Linked DNA regions of Homo sapiens. The protein of the gene in region 4 interacts with the protein of the main gene of each other region in a biochemical or structural test. Each region holds a gene or a part of one and is shown on either strand. Other genes may lie near its edges. The genes, in order: ANXA1, CSNK2A1, OGT and NOP58.

What was found.
Region 1: the proteins of NOP58 (region 4) and ANXA1 interact in a test that uses a peptide from one of them, tested with the Homo sapiens proteins (one large-scale study listed by BioGRID).
Region 2: of the proteins of NOP58 (region 4) and CSNK2A1, one has a biochemical effect on the other in vitro, tested with the Homo sapiens proteins (2 studies listed by BioGRID and IntAct).
Region 3: the proteins of NOP58 (region 4) and OGT form a complex in vitro, tested with the Homo sapiens proteins (one large-scale study listed by BioGRID).

The regions. Positions count from the first base shown.
Region 1 is NC_000009.12:73,160,735-73,166,313, reverse strand, and holds part of ANXA1 (annexin A1), read right to left. Parts: intron 5,512-5,579; coding exon 5,421-5,511; intron 3,533-5,420; coding exon 3,453-3,532; intron 2,839-3,452; coding exon 2,782-2,838; intron 1,199-2,781; coding exon 1,105-1,198; intron 218-1,104; coding exon 122-217; intron 1-121. UniProt on the Homo sapiens protein: Plays important roles in the innate immune response as effector of glucocorticoid-mediated responses and regulator of the inflammatory process. Has anti-inflammatory activity.
Region 2 is NC_000020.11:486,929-492,507, forward strand, and holds part of CSNK2A1 (casein kinase II subunit alpha), read right to left. Parts: intron 5,437-5,579; coding exon 5,326-5,436; intron 2,954-5,325; coding exon 2,852-2,953; intron 1,851-2,851; coding exon 1,750-1,850; intron 648-1,749; coding exon 499-647; intron 1-498. UniProt on the Homo sapiens protein: Catalytic subunit of a constitutively active serine/threonine-protein kinase complex that phosphorylates a large number of substrates containing acidic residues C-terminal to the phosphorylated serine or threonine.
Region 3 is NC_000023.11:71,534,734-71,540,312, reverse strand, and holds part of OGT (UDP-N-acetylglucosamine--peptide N-acetylglucosaminyltransferase 110 kDa subunit), read right to left. Parts: intron 4,136-5,579; coding exon 3,955-4,135; intron 2,485-3,954; coding exon 2,241-2,484; intron 1-2,240. UniProt on the Homo sapiens protein: Catalyzes the transfer of a single N-acetylglucosamine from UDP-GlcNAc to a serine or threonine residue in cytoplasmic and nuclear proteins resulting in their modification with a beta-linked N-acetylglucosamine (O-GlcNAc).
Region 4 is NC_000002.12:202,285,539-202,291,117, reverse strand, and holds part of NOP58 (nucleolar protein 58), read right to left. Parts: intron 3,459-5,579; coding exon 3,394-3,458; intron 796-3,393; coding exon 661-795; intron 1-660. UniProt on the Homo sapiens protein: Required for the biogenesis of box C/D snoRNAs such as U3, U8 and U14 snoRNAs. Part of the small subunit (SSU) processome, first precursor of the small eukaryotic ribosomal subunit.

The DNA.
Region 1 (5,579 bases), on a different chromosome or scaffold from region 4:
ACTTCTGATTGTTTTTTGTTTTCTTTTATTGGTTTTGTTGCTGTTGTTCTTGTTAAGTATAGGATAGCTTTGAAAATACAATTTCTAGTTAGAAAACTCTTTCAACTGCTGGACTACATACCGATAGCTGTGAGGCATTTCTCAATGTCACCTTTCAACTCCAGGTCCAGAACTTTGTTCATGTCATGCTTACTGTACTTGGTGTATTTCTGAAACACTGAATATTAAATTCAAACTAAGATACATGCAAAACATCCTTTTCTTTAGAAAGCTTTAGCAAAATCAAGGCAACTGACTCAAAGAATTTTTTAGAATAACAACTTTGGCTACACCTTTTAAAGCAATATACCCAATTAATCATAACGTGAATACTTCATCCTCTCCTAGGAATGTAACTTACCTGGCCATTTTGGTATTCCTATATATTTTGGCGAAATGTTTGCAAATGTTGACAGTTATTAGAAACGGCATGTGATTGACAACTATAGCACTTCCTACAGCAGTTCTAAGAGCCACAGCAAATGGATCTTCCCTTATATAAAGACCTGTGCACTAAATTTCTCTTACATTTAACAGTAGAAATCAGTATACTATTATAAGATGGTGAACTTTGGTAATTGTCATAACTTTTCCATCGCCTTCACTTCCAAGAGGCCCAGAGCTAAATCTTGCACTCAAAGGCCAGGACTTTTTCTGAGTTTTGTCTTGTTGTTGTTTTTCCAAAGCACCTACATATTTCTTTCTTCATTTAGCTCTGAGGGTTTTTTGTTTTTTTTTTTTTGTTTTTCTTCATTCTAATTTCATTTGTTCTGTTATGCATGTCTTTTCCCACACATATTCCAAATCTTTTAGGGGAGTAAAAGCAGTGAAAATAACAAAATTATGTTCCACATGCCCAAGTCACAAAATGTATTAAATATGATAAAGTAGCGGCTGTACAAAATTGGACAAATTGACAAATAACAATGGGTCAGGAACACTGTATCTGTTTGATACAGGAGTGATATTGAAAAAGGGTTCTGTTTTTACTTTCTCTTATTTGTCATCAAAAAAGAAAATTGCATCTTCCATAAACAGATTCCAGAAAAAGAAATTTATTGTTACCTCTGCGAAGTTGTGGATAGCTTCTGGTGGTAAGGATGGTATTGAACACGTTTACGTCTGTCCCCTTTCTCCTTTCTCCTGCTTCATACAAGGCCTGTCAAGAAACACAAAAGTAAACACTTCACTATCTGCTGAAATGATATCTGCACAATAATGTTAGACCTTGTCAAAGATTATATAGGCAATCGCTTTGTGCCCAATACAATCAGAGTAGTCAACAATAAGATTGCAAGTTCTTTAAAGATAGGGACCTTATTTTGTTTGTCAAATATCTTCCACAGTTTCTCTCAAGGTGCCTTGTAAACACTAGAGTCTGAATATATGTTTGCAGAATAAATGTTTGCTGAACTAAATTGCTTTAAGATTATGCTCTATAGTAAGACAACTCCAAGGGGATCTCTAAAGATTTTTTACTCTGTGTTGTTCAAAGTAATTATCAGCAAATGTTACTTATAAATCAATAATTCAACCGTAACCTGGACCTTGCATTTTGATGTTAGAATTTCTGTATTCAAATTCTGACTCTGCAATTTCAAAGCTGCATAATCTTAGACAAATAGATCAACCTTACTAAATGACAGATTTTTTTCTTTTATATATGAAAAATATAATCCCTGCCCTATTGTCACAAGCGGTCTTTATTAACTTTGAAATGTTGACTACCATCATTCTCTTGGGTCACACTAATCCATGTAACCTCCATAAATATATATTAAGAACCCTGATAGTCTTAAAATGGAAAGCAAATTCAGAAATGTCAAAAGCAAATAAGAATTTTTTATTATGGGCAATTATTCAAATGCTAACTCTTGTTCCTTAATATGCTTGAACAATTTCTATTAAAATGATAAAACCTTCAATGTATGTAAAAATTATTTTGCATTTTTCAAGCAAATTGATCTGATATGTATGCATTTGTTGAACAAAAAGTTCATGAGTGCCTATTATGTACATGATAATGTACTGGTATAGCAGAAGTGGATGGGGGTGCACAAAGAAATCTCTATCCTTAGTGAAGCACTGTAATGAATTCTCTAGAGAATACTGTTCCATGAGAAGGCATAATGCAAATATTAGTTGTTTGTTTGTTTTAAATGGAAATTCCAGGCTTTAAAATGATATGATTTTTCTTATGTTGCCAGTGGTTTGGCATATAAATAATCAGCAATGTCACTGAAACTAAATAAAACAATATGTTAGAAAGCATATATTATTATAATTTATCCTATACTCTTGTTATATCATTGCAGTAATATTTTGACAATATAAATTGACATCTATAAACCATTCCAAAGTTCTCTGTTAAAAATAACGTTAAATATGCTTACTCTTTCCATTGCACATAATAAAAAAATTACATTTCCCCTTCTTATACCTAGTACAACGAAAGGTCAGAGTTTTTTTTAACAAACAATTCTTGGGAATGACAAATCAAATTTGTATTGTCCTTCTTCAGTTCTCTCTGGTTTTACGAATAATGAGAGATATTGAAAACTTACAAAGACTACTTTTTTGTGTGTGGGGGCTACAGAAAGACATGCCTCATTCAGGAAATGAACATTAAGAAGCCATTGGTCTCTCAGAAGATCTTAGATTTGCTTTCACAGGGGATCATGTGGTAGCCCCACTTAAGGTAGGAAGATGAACTGCAGCAGTATTTTGTAAGCACTTCCTTACCCTGGCATCTGAATCAGCCAAGTCTTCATTCACACCAAAGTCCTCAGATCGGTCACCCTGAAAGAAATCCCATTCTATTGTAAGCTCTTCTCTAGCATGTAATTGCATGATTTACTTAATTATCTTAAACTCAGATAAATAATATTTTTTGAGAAAAAGGTATTCTATTACTCATTTCTAGAAGGAGCTCAGATACAAGATTTTACTTGCGATGGTTTTAGATGTTCTTCCCCTCCAAACCTCATGTTGAAATTTGATCCCCAGTGTTAAAGGTGGGGCCTAGAGGGAGGTATTTGGGTCCTGGGGCTGATCTCTCATGAAGAGATTAATGCCGTCACTGGGAATGAGTTCTTGCTCATGAGAACCACGAGAGCTGGTTGTTAACGAGGCTGGCACCTCCCCATTCTCTCTCTTGCTTCCTTTCTTGCCATGTGGTCTCTGCACACACCAGCTCCCTTTCCTCTTCTGTCAGGAGTGGAAGCAGCCTGAGGCTCTCACCAGACATAGATACCCAAACTTGAATTTGTTAGCCATCAGAATCCTGAGCCAAATAAACCTTTTTATCTTTAAAAATTACCTAGCCTCAGATATTCCCTTATAGCAACACAAAATGGACTAAGAAATTAGTCTTTATAAAACAAGAGGCATTTCCTAAAGTATCTGAGTTGTACCTTAGCAAGAGAAAGCAAAGCGTTCCGAAAATCTCCAGATGTGTCTGAGGTTATGTCTTTGGCCAGATCTCTCTTCAGTTCTGAGAAAAAAGAAAAATAGATTTTATAGTAAACCAGTGATGAATAATAATAAGAATATCTGACATCTCTAAGTTGGTTGAAAATTCACAGTGCCACAGTGTTCAATGACTTATGGAACATGTTGCAAAATATTATCATTTTTAAATAAGAAGAGAAAAATTAAAGCAGGTAAATTTTTGGATCATTGAATTTATTTCATATGAAGCAATGGGAGCAATTTAGATAATACTGTGATTGAAAACTCACAGTCATAAAGCTTTCGTTAAGAATAAATTGTATAGGTATACATTAGTAATTAATTCTGAAATACAACATGGCAGAATTTAAGCAATAGAATGAATAAAATAATTGTTTAAAAGAACAAAATGAGGTACTTGCTTGAATGCAAATTATTTATTTAGTTTAAAAACTATAAATGTCTTATAAGTAATGCAGTTTGATGATTTATGTGTGTGTAAACACTTCTGCTTAACTACATAAAATAATACTGTAATAGGAAAAAATAATTGAATTTATAATTGACTAGTGCTATGGTTTTCATATTGTTTGTTTGGCCCTGCCAAGTCTCATGTTGCAATTTATTCTCCACTGTTGAAGGTGGGGCCTGTTGGGAGATGTTTGGATGATGGGGGCAGATCCCTCATGAATGGCTCGGAGTGAGTTCTCATTCATAGTTTCTTTAAGAACTGGCTGTTGAAAAGAGCCTGGCACCTCCTTTTCTCTCTCTCCCTCTCTGCACACATCTGCTTCTGTCTGCTTTCTGCCATGAGTAGAAGTAGTATGAGGCCCTCATCAAAAGCAGACGCTGGTCCCATACTACTTGTACAGTATTTCCTTTCTTTTTACATTACTTGGTCTCAGATATTTCTTTATAGCAACACAAACGGACTAAAACAACTTGAAACTGGGCAATGTAATAAACTATCACTGGCCTATATCTTGGCCATATGAAAAATATATAAACACTTATTTTTATAAACTATGTTTTATCAAACAAAAATAATCATCATTATTACCACTGACACATGGATCTAACATAAACATTGGTAATTAAATAAGAATTGCAGAAAATGAGGTTTAAAAGCTTCCTTATTTTTATTCTTTTATTAAATTCCTCTGAAAATGATATGCAAAAGCTATTGTATTCTCCATGCTTGGTATGAGAATCAAGCAGAAAGATCTTCTATATGCCATATATTGCATTGGGAAAGCCAAAAAGCCAGCAGCTCAGGGAAATGAGAGTAGGAAAATGGTAAGAGACTTGCAATTACCCTCTTTTCAGTGTTGAGCACATCATTTAAATGAGATGCTTCACTGGAGAGATAAAATAAGCTAAGACTAGTCTTTTATTCTGTGAATTTAACTAGAGATAAAGTGAGTCTCTTATGTTCATAACGATAAAGTTAAGGTTTCCAACAGAGAATTATAAGCACCTAATTCTTTACTTTTTCAAGGACAAATGAAAAACATTTTGTTAGGAGATTTTTTTGTTATTATATATTCTTTTCAAAAAAAATGACCTTGGGACATTTTTATAAAATACATTCCAGAATAATAGAAAAGTGTTTTTCAGAAATTTTTAAAAATTCAATGCTCTGAATTGAGGTTTCCATTATAATCGTATGTGGCCATTTATCCTAGAGGAACATTTTCTATTAAAACGCAAGCTTGATGCGGATTGGGACACCATCTCCCTTGTCAGCAACCTAGCAACTCAAGCGTTGCCTGGTAACAGCATTTAATAGACATGTGCCAAACAATAAAGAAACATTTTGATATGTGGAGATTCCAAAGCTGCCATAATTACCATAGACAGTCAATTTTAAGAAAGTATATTAGATTTCCTTTTCAAATAAGGCGTTTGGACTGTTGGACATTACAACTTACCCTCTCTGTAGACCCTGTTAATGTCTCTGATTTCTTTGTTAGTTCTTGATGCCAAAATCTCAATTAGAGTATCTTCATCAGTTCCAAGGCCCTAAATTTGAAGAGAAGAAAAGGATAAATGTAGAAAAAAATCTTCATGCAAGAGGATCAATGAGTTTT
Region 2 (5,579 bases), on a different chromosome or scaffold from region 4:
ATTCAGTACAAAACCATCACACCGAAGGAAAAATGTCATGTTGCAGCTAACATCACAGTGCAGATGGGGTGGGTCTCAGTGGTATTTTCACTTAGGATGGCACAGGTGGCTATACTCACAAATCTAAGTCAAGGTGTTCATACAATTTTAAGATTTGTAAGCCTCATTAGCTCTTTCCAACGAATGATTACTAGGGACAGGAAAGATACAGGGCTGTGTATTCTAATTCAACCATTCCAGACTGAGGCACTGAGAAGTGTCATCCTCACAGTATGAAAAGAGTTTATTTAGGAATGCTCTTGTGTCATGTATTCTGTTACAGAAGAATTCTTCCAGTAATTCTGCAATGTAGTTGCCATCACTATCCCCACTGGAAGAATCTGAGGCTCAGTGTGGGTGAATTAACTTTGCAGCAAGCTGACAGGAGCTGGGATTACGACTCTGTTCTATAGGACTCTGCGCCTGCACAAACTCTGTGGGCTAGATATCTGGACTCACAGAAATAGGGGTGCTCCATTGCCTCTCTTGCAGTAAGCCGTGACTGGTGGTCATATCGCAGCAGTTTGTCCAGGAAATCCAAGGCCTCAGGGCTGACAAGGTGCTGATTTTCACTGTGGACAAAGCGTTCCCATCGCTTTCGAGAGTGTCTGCAGGACCAAAAGAGGGCATGAGAAATGGGCCACGTGGGCACAGAAGCCCAACATTTCATTCCTACATTTTTCTTAGTGGCTAACAGCCCAGACAAAAGCAAAGAGGGATCCAAACTCAAGAGGGTAGTCTTGCACCGCTCTGCCACTGAGTGGGACAACAAAGCTAACTGGAGACTGGAAACAACATAGCTAGAGTGAAAAAAGACATCTGAGTCCTCTCAATTTTAAGAAACATAATTCAGGTTACTTGACAGGACGTGACCGCTTCTGTGTAGCAAGGAGGGTCAGGTGGCTGAGCTCACCAGGCCTATTTCCCATCCCCACACATATTCCTGGCATCTCTGCCAATTGGCCAGCAAAAGCCTTTGCATCAGGAAAGTCCATCTCCTCCTGTTGAGTGGTTAAGTGTATAAGTACTATATCTAGTCACTACTGTTAAGAGTCGGTTGTCTGCATATAGCCTTTTTTTTTTTTTTTTTGGAGACAGGGTCTCACTCTGTTGCCCAGACTGGAGCGCAGCCACATGTTCATTGCTCTCTGTAGCATTCCCTCCTGGGCTCAAGGGAAGCTCCTGCCTCAGCTTCCTAGTAGTCTGGACTACTGCCACACATCACCATGCATGGAGTCGAGGGTCTCATTATGTTGTCCAGGCTGGTCTCCAACTCCTGGGCTCAAGTGATCCTCCTAAAGTTCTGGGATTACAGATATGAGCCACCGTGCCCAGCCTGCACATCAGTCTTAAAGCATGCATTTTCTACTTCAATTTCTTTCTCTTGGAGAGAGGTTTTTCACTTAAAGAAGCAAGGTAAATTTTGATTTTTGCCTCAACTGTAACCCTTCTACTAGAATCTACATTCATTTTGTAGGAATCCTCTAGCTATAACCCCTCCATCAGACTCCTGTAAGTTAATTTGAATAAAGGGCCATTCAATCCAATGCCTTTATCAGAGGCCTGCTCAATGCAGCATCCTGTGGCACTGGACCACTGACATCCTGACAGTGCTGGCAAAGAAAACATAACTATTTTGAAGATCCTAAGTGCCAGTTCACTCTCAAAGTGCTTAAGCCACAGATGCACATATTTTGTTTCATGACTTACCTGCCCAAGATATCATTGAAACGTGGATCTAATTCAATGTTGTATTTGTCAATATAGTCATATAAATCTTCTGTCCCCAGAACCTTGGCTATCCTCACCAACTAGTATTAAAGAAAGACAAAAACCCATATCACAAGCATATTATATTAACAAATCAACAATTAACAATGATTGAATTTACATAAACGGGTCATCATGTCTACAGGTATGAATGCTACCTCCTAACAGTTTAGACTTCAACTCAATGTGATAGTGTTAGAAAAAGCAAACTACTTTATAAACTGGTTTCTTCCTCTTGAAATGTCACCCTGGTGAACCCTTATTTTTCTCCCCTCAAAACCCAATTGAAGATGTCACTTCTTTTGGGAAGCTCCCATTGCACACTCAAACTACTCACCACTACTGCCTTTTGTGCCTTGTCCACATTTCTACTCTGAAGTTATGACTGTAACCTATTTTGTTGTATGTTTGACTCCCTTACAAGATCAGCTATGAACTATCTGAGGGGAAGAAAACTATTCTTTCTTTTTTCTGTATTCCTCAGTACTGCATGCACTTGATACAGAGTTATTGACTTTAATGGAATTCAGGTTGTATTCTTTGACTCATTAAAATTGGACATGGTGCTCAAAGGGAACAAGACAATGGTACCTTCCACAAGGTCCTAGAATCATTCCAGGTTCTTGTGAATGAAAGAGCCCTTTGATCTTCAAGGGGGAAGTGGAGTTAGTTTAAGAAACATCTGTAACTCAACCCATATAAAGAGCCAAAAGGATCACAGAAATACCACATATGGGCTCACATATTGGAGAAAACACCATATTGGAGATAAGGGTTTATTAGGAGAATTCTAAGGTAATGTCCTATTTTAAAAATCTGGATGACAATTTATATGTATTCTTCACAATAAAATAAGCAATGCAAATGACAAAGACTAGGGGGGAATGTCTGATTTCAAAAGGCTAAGCTGGTAGCTCCCGAAACATCAATCTAAGGATCAATATCGGGGTGGCTGAATAAACAGTGAACTGAAAGTTACAGGCAGTGCTGGCTATCATTGCATTAGGCCAGTACATTTTTCAATGGGTATAACATATATTACCTGATCATAATTGTCATGTCCATGGAAAAATGGCTCCTTCCGAAAGATCATACTTGCCAGCATACAACCCAAACTCCACATATCCAAACTATAATCGTACATCTGCATAAAAGTAAACTCACTGTTATTATCTGTGAATCCTCAGGCTTGTCACTTCAAAATAAAAAATTAATTTTTAAAATTAAAAAAAAATCACTCCACTGACTCAAAATCAAAACACTAATAACATCTTCATATATTTCTTTTTAGTCTTTCTTTTTTTTTTTTTTGGAGACAGAGTCTCACTCTGCTGCCCATGCTGGAGTGCAGTGGCGCAATCTTGGCTCACCACAACCTCCGCCTCCCGGGTTCAAGCAATTCTCCTGCCTCAGCCTCCTGACTAGCTGGGACTACAGGCGCGTGCCACCATGCCTGGCTAATTTTGTATTTTTAGTAGAGACGGGGTTTCACTACGTTGGCCAGTGGTCTCAAACTCCTGACCTCATGATCTGCTCGCCTCAGGTTCCCAAAGTGCTAGGATTACAGGCATGACCCACCGTGCCTGGCTAGTTTTTTCTTTTTTTTTTTTTTTTAGTTTTTTTTTTAGTTTTTTCTTTTATGCATCTTTCACTCGGTTTTAAAACAATTTTTACTTTTTTTTTTTTTTTTTGAGACAGAGTCTTGCTCTGTCGCCCAGGCTGCAGGGGTGTGATCTTGGCTCATTGCAACTCAGCTTCCCAGGTTCAAGCAATTCTCTGCCTCAGCCTCCTGAGTAGCTGGGATTACAAGCGCCCACCACCGCGCCTGGCTAATTTTTTTGTATTTTTAGTAGAGACAGGGTTTCACCATCTTGGCCAGGCTGGTCTTGAGCTCCTGACCTTGTGATCCACTTGCCTTGGCCTTTCCAAGTGCTGGGATTATAGGCGTGAGCCACTGTGCCTGGCTCTTTTTTTTTTTTTTTTAAAGACACAGGGTCTTGCTCTGTTGCCCAGGCTGGAGTGTAGTGGCGTGATCATAGCTCACTGCAGCCTCCAACTCCTGGGCTTAGGCCTCCTGAGTAGGTAGGATTACAGGCATACACCACTATGCTCAGCTAATATACATACTATTTTGAATTGTTTTCTTCACTTACATGAAAAAAAAAAAAAAAAAACCTCCAAATTGTTAGCCCATGGAGACCATCTAATGTGTATCATTAGTATTTTATTACATAAATGTTTCAGAATTCAATCTTTAATTTTCCTATAATAGGACAGTGTTCTGTTTTTCACAATTATTAGTAATACTGTAAAAACTATTTTTATGCATAAAATGCTTTTTGAACTCAGGGCTATAGCCTTAAGACCCCAAGAAAGAAATTCCTACAAGAACAAAAAGTCTGAAACTTTTAAAATCAACTGATAATAACCTGGAAAGACTGGGCATAAAAGATACTCCCAAGAAAACTTCAGATTTTTAAACACTTGGCAAATCTATTATTAATTTGGTTCCTTTCTCCTTTTTCTGTGAGGAGAAAGAAGGCTTTTTGGGGGAGCTGGGGAGAAGACCTTTTTATTTAGTATACAATTCAGAAGAACAAGAAAACATTCTTGAATTTACTCTGAAGATTGGTTAAACTTAGTTACAGGATGGGCATGGTGGCTCATGCCTGTAATCTCAGCACTTTGGGGAGCCAAGGTGTGAGGATGGGTTGTGCCCAGGAGTTTGAGATCAGCCTGGGCAACATAGTGAGACTTTCTCTCTACACACAAAAAAATTAAAAATTAGCTGGGTGTGGTAGTGCACGCCTGTAGTCCCAGCTACTCAGGAGGCTAAGCTGGAAGGATCACTTGAGCCCAGAAGTTCGGGGCTGCAGTCAGCTATGATCATGGCATTGCACTCCAGCCTGGGCAACAGAGCAAAACCCTGCCTCAGAAAACAAACAAAAGGCCGGGCGTGGTGGCTCACGAGGGCAGGAGATCGAGACCATCCTGGCTAACACAGTGAAACCCAGTCTCTACTAAAAATACAAGAAAAATTAGCTGGGGTGGTGGTGGGTGCCTGTAGTCCCAGCTACTTGGGAGGCTGAGGCAGGAGAAAGGTGTGAACCTGGGAGGCGGAGCTTGCAGTGAGCCGAGATCATGCCACTGCACTGCAGCCTGGGCGACAGAGTGAGACTCCGTCTCAAAACAAAAACAAAAACAAAAACAAAACAGCTTACAATTCAAAACAGTTCTGGAACTGCTGATTATAGAACATATCTTTGGCTACTTTCCCTCAAGTCAGGATCAAATGCAAACCTATTCATATTCTACCGACATTATGACAATAAAAGTAATGTAAGTCATGGTACATGAATTAAGGTGATTTATATTTTACATTTCATATAAAAAGGACAGCTGTGAATGTGCATTAAGTGGCCTACCTAAATGCACAAAATGATACTTTTTTTTTTTTGGTAAATTATGTGCGAAATAAACACAGGATCAAAACTGTGCCTGCCCTTCTGTTCTTACCTGATAGTCTACAAGTAGCTCAGGACCTTTGAAGTATCGGGAAGCAACTCGGACATTATATTCTTGGCCAGGATGATAAAACTCAGCCAAACCCCAGTCTATTAGTCGTAGCTGAAAAAGAATAAACCATGAGCAATCTTATCTTTCTCTAAGCTACCCACACTGTGCCATTAGCATACTCTTGATAAAATATACCAGACACGTCACTCTTTACTGAAACCCCTCCACTGACTACTTATAGCCTTTAGAATGAA
Region 3 (5,579 bases), on a different chromosome or scaffold from region 4:
GGTTCTACCAGTACTGAACTGACAACGGGCATTTGACAGTAAGTTTAAATCTAGTTAAGACTTTAGATATCCTGAAATAAATTAAAATATGATCACTATGGCATGTTTAGTTGAAATCAAGGGAACTTGCACAATCCCATTTTCATTCTTATTGGTAAAAACAGTAATAAATAAGTAAAGCAGCACCTTCCACTAGAAGAAACATAGAACCAGATGACAACACATGGCCATTCAATGCATTCAAGAGGTAATCCCATGATTTATTTTAGTACTATCTCACTTCCTTGGTAGGGTACAACAATAAGCTTCCTGCTAACAGCAGGTTAGATATTAAATAGCAAGGTTCCATCTCTCACTTTAGTTTTCCTTCTCAGCATAGTCCTACTGCTTGGGTACACTATCAGTAGCAATGACTGCTCTGCTACACACATAGGCAACTGGAAACCTGAGCCAAGGGCATTAGAGTTAAAGATGGCAAGAACCACAGCTGTGTAAGAGGGTACACTATCAATAAGAGTAGAATCAACCTGATTAATAAAGGTAAAGAACTTACTGTGACAACTGGGTACAGAGGTGAGCCCTGAGCCCTGGGAAAAATGGGGTCCAAGGCCCAGTGGCAGTACATACCAGGCTCCCTAAAACTTTATGTGGGTAACTAGCTAGATTAGTATTGCAATAAAACTTACAAAAAGTCACTCAAATGTACATATATATACACTGAGTGTCTCAGAAAAGATAGACAAGAAATTAGTTTCATTTGCTACCTCCAAGAGTGCTAACTGGAGGTATTCACTGTATCCATTCAAAAACCAATAAATTTAGAAGCTGGGTGTGGTGGCACACACCTATAGTCCCAGCTACTCTGGAGGCTGAGGCAGGAGGACTGCTTGAGCCCAGGAGTATGAGTACAGCCTGGGCAACATAGCAAGACTCCATCTCTTAAAAAAAAATGTTTTTTAAAGCAATGGATTTTCTAAAAAGGACACGTTTAAACTCTCAAAATTAACTACAAAAATTGTTAATAGATATCATCATGAGAAGTGACTTCGGATCTTTGAACAAACTACTAAATTTAGTTTCAGTTTCCTAACCAAAAAATAAGGGACAGCAAAATATGATCAATGGTTTTTTAACTGTGCTCAAGGGCTGCTTTGATGGGTGAGTGCCCTCTGGGCACATCATCCCACTTTTATTTCTTTTCACTTCAACATTTGCTTTGAGGATATTCAGACTCAGGTTTTAATATCTATTAATACTTCATTACTAGCTTTGTCCCCATGAAAGCCACATAACCCTGAGTCCATGGTTTTTTTTTAATTGATAAAAATCAGAAATAATATCATCTATTTTGAAGAATTATTGTGAGGATTAACTAAGACCAATCATTTAAAGCTGTCAGTAGAGTGTCTGACCACACAGACTTTCAGTAAACGGTAGCTAAAATAAACTATTAGCCATTTCCAGGTTGGTTACAAAACTGAATGTTGACAATGTAACTTGGGAACTTTTTCTAGATTTCTATAACCCCACTATCATTTACCTCTTAAGTTTACATCTACTTTCTCTAACTACATCATAAGTTCTGAGGGAAAGTCTTATGTTTTTGTATCTTTCGGAGATCCTAAACACAGTATGAATTTAAGGTCTGCCAGCTGAGCCTTACTTGTTCCCAGAACACATCTGCAACTTAGACAAAAAAAATTTTTAAACTAATCAAAAGCCCAGTATAAGTAGTATCATCTAAATTCTATGACTTCTAATTACATTGAAAGAGAAGAGAATAGGATATTGAGGAAGAAATTTTGTAGCCTAATTTTCACATCATTCCATATAGTGGCATCTTGTTTCAAACTATTTTATATTACAGATTTTACAGATTAAGACCCATTATCCACCATTCCTTGAAAATCAATTAACTTGCAAACACTTATCAGAATTTATCCAAAGTTAATCACAACAGAAAAAAGTCATGTGCTCTGTACTTTATACGTGTTATTTTAAAATTGATGTAGTTTCTTGCAATAAGAATTTTTATGCTTTTTAATATAACTTGCTAAATAAAACAAATATTTTAGCATAACGCAGACCAGCTAAAAGCAATTTCACCATTTTAAGTACATACGCATTTCTAAACTTTTGACTTTATTCCATGTGAAAACCTACTTTAGTGTCTGAAATATCACACTATGTTTCTTTCTGGGTTTCTAGGAAGGGAAAGTAACCATTAAAATTTTACTCACAGGATTGTACTGAAGAGCAGAGACGTAAGCTTGTACTGCCCCTTCCATGTCACCCGCTGCTACCAAGGCGGCTGCCAGGTTAATATAACCATCGATGAAATCAGGTTTGAGACGCAATGCATGTCGATAATGCTCAATTGCCTCCTGCAACTGCCCTCTTTCCTTGTACACATTCCCCAAATTCGAATAAGCTTCTGCCAGAAGGGGGTTCTGTTTAATTGCCAGAGTGCTAAAGTGAGCAGATCTGGAAAAGGCGACAAGTGTTAATGCATGGGTATGCACGTTACAGAAAAGAAGGTATGGCCCATATGCAACTCAAACAGTTTGAGATCTGTGCTATTGCTCATTATATAATACCTTATCTTTTAACTAGTGCATAGCAAGAAAAATTTGGGAAATCAAAGATTTTCAAAAGTGGAGGTATTCTAGATTTCAAAATGAAAAGCTTTTTCTTATTAAATAAAATTATTGGCTGGGCGCAGTGGCTCACGCCTGTAATCCCAGCACTTTGGGAGGCTGAGGCGGGAGGATCACCTGAGGTCAGGTGTTCGAGACCAGCCTGGCCAATATGGTGAAACCCCGTCTCCACTAAAAATACAAAAATTTAGCCACGCATGATGGCAGGCGCCTGTAATCTCAACTACTCAGGAGGCTGAGGCAGGAGAATCGCTTGAACCCGGGAGGCGGAGGTTGCAGTGAGCTGAGATTGCGCCACTGCACTCCAGCCTGGGTGACAAGAGCAAAACTCCACCTCAAAAAAAAGAAAAAAATTCTAACTAGAGTCTTGTTACAAAACTACCACATTGGCCGGGCGCGGTGGCTGATGTCTGTAATCCCAGCACTTTGGGAAGCCAATGCGAGCAGATCACCTGAGGTCGGGAGTTTGAGACCAGCCTGACCAACATGGAGAAACCCCGTTTCTACTAAAAATACAAAAATTAGCTGGGCGTGGTGGCACATGCCTGTAATCCCAGCTACTCAGGAGGCTGAGGCAGAAGAATCGCTTGAACCCAGGAGGCAGAGTTGCAGTGAGCCGAGATGGCGCCGCTGCACTCCAGCCTAGGCAACAAGAGCGAAACTCCGTCTCAAAAAAAAAAAAAAAAAAAAAAACCCACCACATTGGAAATCATGATCATTAAGATAAAAAATGGAAAGCTATGTGCACGAGTCTCATTTTCCATTTAAGATTTAATGATGCACATCTTTAAGTGTCTAAATATGCCAGAATAACAATTATTAAAAGGACAGGAACACAAATTCTTCCCTTTTGATTAATTCAACTGATTAACTAAAAGCAACACACCATAACAACTTAATGAAACTCCAGGTATGCATCTCCTGCCACAGCATACATAACCATCATTTCTGAGCATTTCAGTCCCTCAAACTGACAGGTCTCATGAAAGGGAGACTGGATGCTCAGATATACATTGATAATAATTTATTACCTGAACAGAGTCTAGAAAGCAGCAGACCCAGATAGAAAAATCTAGAAAAGGTCCCTAGTCATACTGATAATATAACCACCACCACAAAAGGAAGGAGAAAAACTGGCAGCTGGGCATGTCACAAGTGGGCAAGAGAGCAGATGTGCGTTGGCGGCTCAGTTGAAACCCGGTACTGGAAAAATTTCAAGTTCAAATATTTAAGTATCATTTTTCAAGCTCAGCACCCAGAGGCAGCAATCACGAGCAGGTACCCCAACATCTCCTACCTGTCCAGCCTTCGACACTGGAAGTGTATAGATGAAAGTAATAAAAGCACACCAGTATTGTCTGGCTCTTGTCTCCAGAGCTGCATGCAGTGTCTCTCAGCTGCCTCAAAATCTCCTGCCTGATATTCTCGATGTGCCAACTCAGCTAACCCTTGGAAGGAAAGCATACGTTTCGTTGGTTCTGGAGAATCATCAAAACATTTGAGGGAAGGAGGGGGGAAAACAAAAAGTTAGAAATGTAAACCAAAAAAATGTAAAAATATGGTATATTTAACTTAAAAATGGAAATGCTTGAAACTATGTAAAGCACTAGAGTGTTCTGCACGTTATGTATATCTTCAAGTTAACATCAAGTGCAGAATTGGCATTTTTAGAATTCACCCATTAATACTTTCTTTCCCAAACTAGAAAGGAATATTTACTTCCATATGAGATTACATTTTATGACCAAAAATACTTTGTACTTTTAAATTATAAATCATAGGTAGCATCTAAGGATTCACTGAACATTATTCCTTATACCTTAGTTAACATACAGAAACAAAATATTAAACGTGTGATTTGCAAGGTCACAAAGACTTAATAATATCAGAATAACATATTGGGAAACGTAATATTTTGTGCCATATTTCAGGTTGGATTTGTTGAGGTGGAGTACTGGTAACAATCTATCAATCTTAACCTCAGTGAGGACACCAGATGTGTTAATTCTTTAAATTATATCAATTTTTGTATATTTCAGAATTTAATTCTTTAAAAGGACAAGTAGAAACGAGCCTAAGGGAAAAACCAAAAAGTCAAAGTGCTATTTTTAAAACAGCTGATAAACAAGATGTTTGTCATTTGACAACAGCCAAAATAGTTAAAGGGGTCATCAAACATTTTAAATAAAGACCCAAGATTACACTGCTCCTCTACCATCCCAAACTCAAAAGGAGACTAAATTGGCTAAATCCCACCCACGTTGGTTTAGCACTAACATTTTCCAAACAGCTCTGGTATTGACTAAAGGATTAAGACATTGCAAACAAGCCTATATAAGCCAGGCAGTTACCTGCAACTGCAATGGTCAAAACGTTGGGAGGGAGGGAGGATGGACGCTAAAATATATTTGATAAAGCGCAACATAATGAATAAATAAAAGCACTTCGCTGCAAGTGACTTAATCCAGATACATAAAGATCTTTAAAGGATATAGCTAAAGCCCAGAGAGGGAAAAAAAAAAAAAAAAAACTGCTTGTCACAACTGTAAATACTTAAACTGGGAATTCGACCGTAGCACTTCACTAGCTGGTTGAAATGGGAAACCATGGACAAATTATTTAATTCTACCAAGGTTAAGGTGACTAGTTCAAATTTGAGCCCAGCTCCCCAATCATCAGAGCTGATGAGCGTTCCGGATACTGAGGAAAGCAAAGTAAATTTCCTGACAGAATGCACAGCTGACCACCAACACAAAGAGCATTGAGACTTGCATCCACATCTGGGAGAGGTTATATCTTTAATAGAAACTAAAATTACATTTTAGCTAAGTCTCTAGAACTTCCTAGCTCCTTGTTTTCACACATTACTTTGTCACTTTTCAATGCCGCTTATCTGCTATTTTAACACTTGAAACGACAGCT
Region 4 (5,579 bases):
ATGTTTGCAGAGGATGAGGGAGAATCACTCTTCAACAAATTATATAAAATCCAGCAAATAGTCAAAAGAAAAAGTAGAAAGCCAATGAAAAGGATGCCTAAACAAAACAAAAAAAATGAAGAAGTTTGACCTAGTATAACAGTTTTCCTCATTTAAGGGTTTAAGTTTAGACATTAAATGTCTCCCCACCACCTTCTTCCAAAAAATAATCAGAGTAAAAAGAGGACAAAATATGCCACAACACTTATTACAGAATATAAGTGGCAAAAATTTAAAAAAGACAGGACTAATAATAATGTCACAGACAATTTTATACTGAAGCTGGGGCCAGTAATTCGTAAGGCAAGTAAACCATCAATCAATCAAGTTCCTCTGTACGTTAACGACAATCAACAATCAAGTTCCTCTGTATATTAACAGTACAGACGGCAATACTGCTATTTAGCATTAGGTACTAATATCATGTTATAGGCCATCAAAATCTAAGTTAAAATTCATTTTGTTTCTTAAATTTAAGACACTAAACTGCTACACTTCCCAAATACACAGAAATTGCAAAAACCCTGGGAATCTTGCTTAACAAAATGCTATACGTCATGTTTTAGGATGCAATCAAATTCATTTACTTTCAATGCCTTAAAGGATGAACAAATTACTCACCAACTTTCTGTAAACACTTGCAGTATGTTAAATTATCTGAAATAATTTTTCCTAATTCAGGGAAATGCCAGCCATACCATTCTCTACATCGCATAATGTAGTTGTTTAGTTCTTTATCCAAGTCATCTAACAAGGCTGTAGTAGATTAAAAACAAACAAACAAAACTTAAAGGGATTTATTGTGGTAAAACATACACAACATAAAATTTAACACTTCAGGCTGGGCACGGTGGCTCATGTCTGTAATCCCAGCAGACAGGCATATCACGAAGTCAGAAGTTCAAGACCAGCCTGGCCAACATGGTGAAACCCCATCTCTATTAAAAATACAAAAATTAGCCAGGCATGGTGGTGCACACCTGTAGTCCCAGCTACTCTGGAGGGCTGAGGCAGAAGAATCACTTGAACACAGGAGGTGGAGGTTGTAGTGAGCCGAGATCGTGCTACTGCATTCCAGCCTGGGTGACAGAGCAAGATTCCGTCGCAAAAAATTTAAAAAAAAAAGAATAAAAAATAACACTTCAACCATTTTCAAGTGTACTATTCAGTAGCATTAAGTATTCTTATGATGTTATGCAACCATTACCAGGATCTATTGCCAGAGCAATTTTATCATCAGAAACTGAAAAATTCTGTACCCATTAAACAGTAACTCATTCCCACCTTCCCCCCAACCTCTAGTTATCTTTATACTTCTGTCTCTGAGTTCACCTATTTTAGGTACTTCATATAAGCAGAATCATGCAGTATTTTGTGACTATTTCACTTAGCATATTTTCAAGGTTTATCATGTTGAAATATGTATCAGAATTTCATTTCTTTTTAAGGCTGACTAACATTCCACTGTGTGAAGTGGCTGGGTGTACGTTACCCAAAATGCTTGGGACCAGAAGTATTTCAGAGTATTTGCAAACACGTATGAGGCTGAGGATGGAACTCGAAGTCTAAATAGGAAATGCATCTACATTTCACATATACCTTATATACAAAACCTTGAAGGTAATTTTACACAATATTTTAAATAATTTTGTGCATAAAACAAAGTTTTGACGTGTGGTCAGGTGTGGAGTTTTCCACTTGTGGATTTGTGTGGTACCACAAAAAGTTTTAGATTTCAGAGCATTTTGAATTTCAGATTAGGGACATTCAAGCTGCATCCACAATGCAGTTTATCCATTCATCTGTTAAAAGGTATCTGGGTTGTTTCCACTGTTTGGTTTTGTAAATAACACTGTTATGAACATAGGTGTACAAGCAACTCAGTTCTGTTTTTAATTCTTTTGGGTATAAATCTAGGAAAGGAATCGCTGGTTGAGCGCTTTTTTTTTTCTTTTTTTGGAGACAGAGTCTAACTCCATCACCCAGGATGGAGTGCAGTGGTGCGATCTCAGCTCACTGCAACCTCTGCTTCCTGGGTTCAAGTGATTCTCCTTCCTCAGCCTCCTAAGTGGCTGGGACTATAGGCACACGCCACCTCGACTGGCTACTTTTTTGTATTTTTAGTAAAGACAGGGTTTCGCCATGTTAGCCAGGCTGCTCTCAAACTCCCGAGCTCAGGCAATTCACCCGCCTTGGCCTCCCAATGTGCTAGGATTACAGGTGTGAGCCACTGCGCCCAGCCGAATACTTTGTTTTTTTTTTTGAGACGGAGTGTTGCTCATGTTGTCCAAGCTAGAGTGAAATGGTGCGATCTCGGCCCACTGCAACCTCCGCCTCTCAGGTTCAAGTGATTCTCCTGCCTCAGCCTCCTGAATAGCTGAGATTACAGGCGCCTACCATCATGCTCAGATAATTTTTTTATTTTTTACTAAAGATCGGGTTTCACCATGTTGGCCTGATCTCGAACTCCTGACCTCAGGTGATCCACCAGCCTCTGCCTCCCAAAGTGTTGGGATTACAGGCGTGAGCCACGGCCGAATGCATTTCTAAAATAGAAAAACGATTAAGATTTTGATTTTTTTTTTTTTTTTTTAGTGAGATGGAGATTTGCTCTTGTTGCCCAGGCTGGAGTGCAATGGCACGATCAACTCACTACAACCTCTGCCTCCAGGGTTCAAGTGATTCTCCTGCCTCAGCCTCCCGAGTAGCTGAGATTACAGGCATGCACCACCATGCCTGGTTAATTTTGTATTTTTAGTAGAGACGGGATTTCTCCATGTTGGTCAGGCTGGTCTCAAATTCCCGACCTCAGGTGATCCTCCCGCCTCAGCCTCTCAAAGTGCTGGGATTACAGGCATGAGCCACTGTGCCTGGCAGCTTTTGAGCTTTCTAAAAACCATTTAATGACACAGCAGAATACACAACTACAAAGATTGCACTTATGTTTTTAACATTTTCATGGAAAAATACAAATGAATTAATTAACGTAATGTTAATTCTGTGATTCATATAATCTCCAAATAGTCAACCTCCGCCTCCTGGGTTCAAGCAATTATCCTGCCTCAGCCTCCTGAGTAGCTGGGATTATAGGTACACGCCACCATGCACATTTAATTTTTTTTGTATTTTTAGTAAAGACAGAGTTTTGTCATGTTGGCCAAGCTGGTCTTGAACTCCTGACCTCAGGTGATCCGCCTGCCTCAGCCTCCCAAGTGCTGGGATTAAAGGCTTGAGCCACCACACCTGGCCTCCTTTCTCTTTCTCAACAGACAGAATCATAAAAGATAGTTTCAACAGTATGAAAACGCATGAAGGACAGAGCAACAAATCGGACTTTGCATGTACTATACTTACAAATTGCCTGAACAATCATTGTGTCTACTTTATCAGCGCTAAACTTCAATCTATATCGAGACAGGCTGGGAAGAAAGGGGAAAATAAATTAGCAAGATAGCATCTAGGAAAAGCATTTAAATTAACACCTTAAAGTTTTTTTTTGTTTTTGTTTTTACTCAAATCAGCCTGTAGTCAGAGCTGTAATTGGTTTTTCTAAGAAGAAAAATCAGCTAAGTAGAAATGCACCATACGAGAACAGAAAATACACATTAAAAAAAAAAACTATATGTGCTGCTACGACCTTTATTTCTGTAACATGAATGAGTTTATGTATGAATGACAAATAGGATAAGCTGTGTAATACAAAAGTCATATTGGACTGGGCGTGGTGGCTCACGCTTGTAATCCTAGCACTTTGGGAGGCCGAGGTGGGCAGATCACCTGTTAGGAGTTCGAGACCAACCTGGCCAACATGGCGAAACCCTGTCTCTACTAAAAATATAAAAATTAGCCAGGCATGGTGGGGCACGCCTGAATCTCAGCTACTCTGGAGGCTGAGGCAGGAGAATCGCTTGAACCGGGGAGGCAGAGGTTGCAGTGAGCCGAGATCACGTGCCACTGTACTCCAGCCTGGGCAACAAAGCAAGACTCCGCCTCAAAAAAAAAAAAAAAAAAAAAGCCATATTGGTTCATGCAATTTTTAATAGCACATATTAAGCTTTATACTACCAGTTAGGAACTTTGCAGGACTCTTAACATCTGAAAACAGAAAGCTGTGGAGTAACAATATTGTCTGTATAAAAATGTTTTTTCATCTCAGCACAATTAATATTTTGGGCCTAATTCCTTGTTGTACAGGCTGCCCTGTGCATTATAGGACCTTTAGCAGTATCCCTAACTTTTATCCACCAGATACTCATGGCAGACCCCAACCCACCTCCAATTGTGACAACCAAAAATGTCTATGGACATAGACAAATGCCTACTGGGGGGACATCTGATTGCCCTTGATAGGGAACCACTGCTATACACAATGCAGATTTACCCAGGTTTGGATTTTTGACTCAGTTTCACTATTTGTTCTCTCTTAGAAATGCTTATTACAAAGCTCTCCCTAACCTTTGTGCATTTTTGCTCTTAACTCTAGCTTAGCAGCTTCAACCCTTTCAATCTATGCCCACCTTTTAATTTTAAAATAGACCTTTTTAAATTGTAGTGTTTCTTTTTTGTTTTGTTTTGAGACGGAGTCTTACTCTGTCACCCAGGCTGGAGTGCAGTGGAGCAATCTCCACTCACTGCAAGCTCCACCTCCCGGGTTCACGCCATTCTCCTGCCTCAGCCTCCCGAGTAGCTGGGACTACAGGCGCCCGCCACCATGCCTGGCTAATTTTTTTGTATTTTTAGTAGAGACGGGGTTTCACTGTGTTAACCAGGATGGTCTCGATCTCCTGACCTCATGATTCACCTGCCTCAGCCTCGCAAAGTGCTGGGATGTATTACAGGCGTGAGCCACTGCGCCTGGCCTATAGTGTTTCTTTCTCCCTTTTTTTTTTTTTTTTTTGAGATGGAGTCTCACTCTGTCACCCAGGCTGGACTGCAGTGGAGCGATCTCCACTCACTGCAAGCTCTGCCTCCCGGGTTCACGCCATTCTCCTGCCTCAGCCTCCCAAGTAGCTGGGACTACAGGCGCCCGCCACTGTGCCCGGCTAATTTTTTGTATTTTTAGTAGAGACGAGGTTTCACCGTGGTCTCGATCTCCTGACCTTGTGATCTGCCTGCCTTGGCCTCCCAAAGTGTTGGGATTACAGGCGTGAGCCACCGTGCCCAGCCTGTAGTGTTTCTTTTAATATTAGCTTAAAATGTCTTTTGAACTGTGGTAATAATTTTATTAGGATTACTATTTGACAGTACTGATTACAAAGTTGCACAGGTTTTGAGCAACTACCTACCATTATTTTCTTCACAACCCTGTTAACTGTAGTGCAATTCCAAAGTATTAAGCTTTTCATGAACAGATGTATCACAACATAGCAATAATGCCTATTCTAAGGGACTTCTAATGAAATATGATAGGGTTAACATGCAATTAAAAATAGGGAGAAGACTGGGCATGGTGGCTCACCCCTGCAGTCGCGGCACTTTGGGAGGCTAAGGCAAGTGGATCACTTGAGCCTGGGAGTTCCAGCCTGGGCAGCATGGCAAAA